2 separate regions of the Homo sapiens genome follow, and region 1 is linked to region 2. The links come from fine-mapping of genetic effects on gene expression. A gene starts in region 2. The other region holds a variant in brackets. All regions are shown on one strand. Distances are between the middles of the regions. Region 1 overlaps PRH1-TAS2R14 (PRH1-TAS2R14 readthrough). Region 2 holds the start of SMIM10L1 (small integral membrane protein 10 like 1).

The links.
Region 1: its variant is fine-mapped to the expression of SMIM10L1 in subcutaneous fat (TwinsUK, PIP 0.93).

Annotation. Positions count from the first base shown.
Region 1 is chr12:10,964,722-10,967,643 of GRCh38, forward strand. The region is part of intron 4 of PRH1-TAS2R14 (PRH1-TAS2R14 readthrough); the gene reads right to left. The region is part of intron 4 of PRH1-PRR4 (PRH1-PRR4 readthrough); the gene reads right to left. It also overlaps a transcript of PRH1 not described here and the pseudogene TAS2R15P. Among named protein-coding and RNA genes, the nearest start is that of TAS2R50, 21 kb to the right of the region's middle. The variant T/C (reference allele first, on the strand shown) is at 1,799.
Region 2 is chr12:11,169,710-11,172,631 of GRCh38, forward strand. SMIM10L1 (small integral membrane protein 10 like 1) reads left to right here and starts at 1,485. Exons shown (of 1, transcript NM_001271592.2): 1 at 1,485-2,922. The coding sequence starts at 1,648. The coding sequence ends at 1,854. It overlaps PRH1-TAS2R14 (PRH1-TAS2R14 readthrough), which reads right to left and starts at 1,902. Exons shown (of 5, transcript NM_001316893.2): 1 at 1,713-1,902. PRH1-PRR4 (PRH1-PRR4 readthrough) reads right to left here and starts at 1,916. Exons shown (of 10, transcript NR_037918.2): 1 at 1,713-1,916. It also overlaps a transcript of PRH1 not described here.

The DNA.
Region 1 (2,922 bases), 200 kb before region 2:
ACTGCATCTTCTTGAGATGTTTACACAAAGAACAGATTAAGAGCAGAAAAGATAACAGGGACAGAGTAAAGGGTATTAAGTTTGCAAGCGTGGTTACAGTCATATCTGAAAGGTGCGTCGGATCACTCAATTTGATCTCCCAACTCACGTTTCCTTCATATTCTTTTGTCCACATACTCTCATCCATGTTTACCACAACAAGATGACAAACCAAAAATAACAAAGACCCCAATAGTATCACTGGAATGACACTCTTAATTCTCCTTTTTAAGTGAAGAAAAATAAAGTTGGAGAAATTGGCAATCTTGAGGAAATAAAATATGCTGAGGCTAGTAGCAACCCAGATGCTGAAATGGTTGGTTACAGCCCAGGCATTAATAGTAGTAATTCTTACTCCTAAACTATATGAACCTGGATTCAAAACAGTTGCATACCAATGTAATAATATTACCCAGAGCAAACCAACTCTGGAGACTGCCAGAGCAGTGAGAATTTGGTCAGCAAAGGAGATCTTTTGTCTCTTGACCCACTCAATGGAATTTACCAACACTATGAAGCCATTAGCAAAATTCCCAAGAACAAATGTAACCACTACTAGAATGGAAAAAATGATGGGTAGAAAAGTTATCATGTCTGAACAGACAAAAAGATAGAATAAATGAAGGCCTAACAGCACTGGCTGTGATCCTTTAATATCCTGACCTTAAATTTTATGTGGACCTGATTTCTGAATGTGCAGTAACATTCTTTTTACTTTCAAATACTGTGACCAGTGTCAAACAAGAAAGTAGCAGTTTATGCTAATTGATAGTTCAATAATGTATTTATGGAAAACATTCTAATTTTCAAACAGCTCAACTTAATTCATTCATTCAATGTCTGTTCTTGTTAGAGACTTGTTAGATACTGAAGTAGAAGTGAAACCGGAATTTTCATTTGCCAGCATGCAAATAAAGACATATTCTCTTTCAGTGTTTTGCAATGTTTTCCTCATTTCACCTTTCCATAATTTGTGTTCAGTAACTTTAGCTGTTTGTTATGGAAAATGTGCCACATATTTCACACAGTAAATGCCTAAATCTTAAAGGGAGATTAGTTATAACTAGGATCATCACCATGACCAATTTTTATGCTAGATTTAAATAGACAAAATCCAAACTTTTTAATCAAAGTCATCGAAAATTTTCTTGGGAACCATGGGAATGCCAATACACCTTAAAATCTTATTCCTGCTAACCAGTACTTTTGTATGACATTAGTGTTAACAAGCTCATAAAACATACACACATAGACAGACACACACACATACACATACCCATCCAGAAAAAATGAACTTTTAAAATAATTTCCAAAATGGAAAATGCATTTCCAGGAGGTCATCCTGGTGAAATTAGTCCTATTTTCCCACTCAGGGTTTTCAGCCCATAAAAATATATTAAACATATCTCTCATACTTAGACCCTTGGTAAAGTTACTCTCAAGTCTATTGAATGTCTAAATATTTGTTATTTCATTAAAATATTCAACATTTTTGTAAATATTCCTGAGTATCCCATTATTTGACATATAATCTTGCAGTATTTTCCCACCACACACAGGGTGACTACCTTGCCCCTGGACTCTGAGTACACTCACATAGCTTGCTTTGATTAACAGAAAATTGGTAGACTTCACACAGAGGTTTGAGATGGTTTCCACATTGGAGTTTCTTTTCCTTTTCTGTTTATTATGAGAACATTGCCTGGCTACTACTCTGTTCCCAGAAGGAGAATGAGAAAATAATGGAGTCAGTTTGTCC[T/C]TGCCTGATCCAGCCTACTTTGTCCAAACTCTAACTAATTCCAAGATGCAGAACTTGGCCCATCTCATATCACCAGAGCCATCCAGCAAACCCAGCTTAGAAAAACTGAATCCAAAGACATGTGAGATATCAATATGTAATGTAGTGTTGGAGAGGTTTCTCTGGCAGAAAAACCTAACTGATATAGGTACTCTGCAAAACCAAGCGTGTGGGAAATATGTCCACCCTTGTTGTGTCAGGAATAGAGGAGCCAAAAGAAAAATAGATAAGGAATGGCAAAGTTTTGTCATGCAAGGTAGATAATTAAAGGTAGAGGCTGGGCGCGGTGGCTCACGCCTGTAATCCCAGCACTTTGGGAGGCTGAGGTGGGCAGATCAAGAGATCAGGGGATCGAGACCATCCTGGCTAACACGGTGAAACCCCGTCTCTACAAAAAATACAAAAAATTAGCCAGGCCTGGTGGCGGGCACCTGTAGTCCCAGCTACTTGGGAGGCTGAGGCAGGAGAATGGTGTGAACCCCGGAGGCGGAGCTTGCAGTGAGCGGAGATGGCGCCACCGCACTCCAGCCTGGGCGACAGAGCAAGACTCCGTCTCAAAAAAAAAAAAAAAAAAAAAGTAGAAAAAAACCTTTGGAAAGATCTGGGTACTTCAGGTAGCGTCTTCTCTTATTTCTACATGTTGTAACTAAAATAAAGTTCCCACTTCAACTCTCTTAGAGTTGTATGTAAAGATATATAAATGGTGAATTTTTTCCTAGGTATATAATGAGCAGAGTAATCAATAATTTTTATGGTGCACTTCTCCTAATAAATAATTTTCAAATAAAATTATAATGCACACTTAGAAATGAGTCAAAATAAAAATGGTAAACACAGCAATGTATTATAAACACTCATGTAACCATCAAATAAGGCAAGACGTGGAACATTGCAAAGAGCCTAGGTCCACCTCCATGCTGCTTTTCAAGCCCCTAAATGTTTCTTCACATCTGGTAACAATTTTCTACTTTTCCCAACACTTGGGTCACACAATACAATAAAAGCTTCGTCTAGGCCTTATCCTGCAAGTTGGAAGAAACAGGAAATTGATTTCATGTGATTAGCTTTTTGTTTTGTTTTGTTTT
Region 2 (2,922 bases):
ACTGAAACTATATATCTTCTCCCAGTTCTCAGAATTGATCATTTATTTTACATCGCTCTTCAGTCTCTATACCAGTATTTTAGAAGTTGTCATAAGTAATTCCTCTAAGTGCTACCTCGCTGGAGTGGTACTGGAGCAGCAAAGTAGCAAAAGAATACTAGCTGGGAACACAAAATTAATTTTTACAAATTTATCAGTGGCACGTTATTTCTACCAGTCATATAATCAGTAGACTATATAGAAACAGAGGTACTCTAGGGTACCGTACTTGTGCTCTGAATAGCTGCTAGACATGCAGTGCACGGTGCGATGTGTGGTATCTCAACAATGCTTTTCAGAACAAGACTGTAACCTTAAGGTCATGATCAGAAATCACACATTTGAATAATCCATGAATGAAGACGGTGTGTGCGATTAAAAAATACAGTGCTTTCTAGTTAAAATGGGAGATAAGTGAAGGTAATGAAATGTGCACCATTTAAATAACAAAAGTATTGTGGCTATTAGAGATTCACTGTGCTGTTACTCTAATGGTATTAAGAGTTTGGAAGTACAGGCCGGGCGCTGTGGCTCACGCCTGTAATCCCAGCACTTTGGGAGGCTGAGGCGGGCAGATCACGAGGTCAGGAGATCGAGACCATCCTGGCTAACACGGTGAAACCCCATCTCTACCAAAAAATACAAAAAATTAGCCGGGCATGGTGGCGGGCGCCTGTAGTCCCAGCTACTCAGGAGGCTGAGGCAGGAGAATGGCGTGAACCCGGGAGGCGGAGCTTGCAGTGAGCCGAGATCGCGCCACTGCACTCCAGCCTGGGCGACAGAGCGAGACTCCCGTCTCAAAAACAACAACAAAAAAAGAGTTTGGAAGTACAGAGTAGTATTCCAGCTCTTGGAGCCTAGCCACAGGTTTCACAGATGCATCTCCATGCAGAAATGGCTGAAGCTTCCACAGCTAATCTGAACTTTTTAAGGGTTTACATGGCTGGGAATATAATTTTGTATGTATGTCCTTATGTATATACGCGTGTGTGTCCACTAGTTTTTTGCTTGAATGTTTATCATTCCTGTCACTTGCAATTTAAATATTCCTAATAAATAGAAAAATCCAAAGACTAAGATTGTGATCCTTTTTATGTCTATGGTATATTATGAATACAGAGACCTTGTGCTTTTATTGGCGTAGGAATCATCTTGCCCTAATATTAATATTATGAAATCAAAAGGGTAAGATTCCTAACATCCCACATAACACAGCAGACAAACTAAAGTTTTAATCTAGCTTTGGCCCTTACAAATTTTGTGCCCTACGGCAAGTTACATCTCGCTTAGATTTTTTCATTTTAAAGTGGAACTATCTGCATGGATGTTCGTACATGCTATATAACACATCCTATTCCAGAGCCACCTACCATCAGTTGAGCTCTAAATGGTAAATGCCACAGTGAGAAGCAGACAGGAAGGGGCGGAGCGCCAGCGGCGCCCGGGGCTACGCGCCGCACTGCACCGAGCGGCGGCAGCGGCAAGCTTGGGTGTGAGCCCGGGAGCCGCTTTGCTTACCGTCCTGCCGGTCCCAGCCGTCGCTAGGAGGTCCGCGGGCCCTGCGGCAACCCTCGCTACAGACGCTGGGCGGGCGGCGACACCTGGCTCATGGCCCCCGCGGCGGCTCCGTCCTCCTTGGCCGTCAGGGCCTCAAGCCCCGCCGCGACACCCACCTCGTACGGCGTCTTCTGCAAGGGGCTCTCCCGCACCCTGCTCGCCTTCTTCGAGCTGGCCTGGCAGCTGCGCATGAACTTCCCGTACTTCTACGTCGCGGGCTCGGTGATCCTCAACATCCGATTGCAGGTACATATTTAGAGCCATGACTAAGCTAACGGCCTCCGGGGCCAGCATGATGGCCGACTCCCAGGGTCCGTTGCGGCGCGGCGGAGCAGCCAATGGCGAGCCCCACAGTCTCGCGAGAGTGCTCAGGCGCTCTTCGTGGCTGCCCTCTTAGCTGCTAGCGGAGCTCCTCAGGGGGCGGCCGGGAGCCTACAATCCCTAGAAAGAGAATACGCTGTTCCGGAAACAGAACTGCAGTTAAGACCCTCGAAAACATCTAAGAAAGTGTGCATCCTAAAACACCTGACGAATTTCAGAATGTGACAAAGCGCAGAGGATGCATTATTTCAAAACAAAACAGAAGGCTAAAATTTGCAGGAAAAAGAAAATCAGTAAACCGGGAATCCTCGGACTGGATTGTAAGCAAGATTTCAATGAATAAGAAGCTGAAGGTATTAAGGCTGTGATATAGAAGGTACATATTTCATCCCACAAGAGAAAACAATAATAATCAGAAATTTTCGGTGAAAAAAACGCAAAACTGTACAGGAAAATCATCCTCCAAGTACCAGACATAAAATGCTGCAAGCTTTTGAACTAATGGCGAGAGTGTAAGAAAATGGGCTCTACTTCAGTGATCCTGTGGCAGGACGTGGATCAAGACTTGGAACCGCAGAAAACGAAATCCCATAGTAGCACAAAGCTTGGCTGTTCAGTGAATAACATTTAAATAATCGTAAAATACAAATGTTGTTTATGGTTTTTATTGTTTAAGGGCATACTTAATTATGGTTACAAAGTGGAGTGCAAATGTTATTTACCATGTTTTAAAAATACAGCCGGAAAATACAAGTGGGAATGTTGAAGGAGGGCGGGGGAAGTAAATGGAATGGGGGTTATGTCCTTATAAAGTGGAAACTTGAAAGGTACTGTCTGTTGTTGAGTGGGGAAAGACATTTTTATTACTTACAGGGTAGCCATAAAGTTTCTAAAACGGTAATATATTAAAGAGGGAGAGTGGTAGGGGAGAACAGTATGAAGTCAACAGGAAATGGCTAAAGATGGAGAGCTCAGGTAGAATAGTTTAAAAAATGAAAATTGATA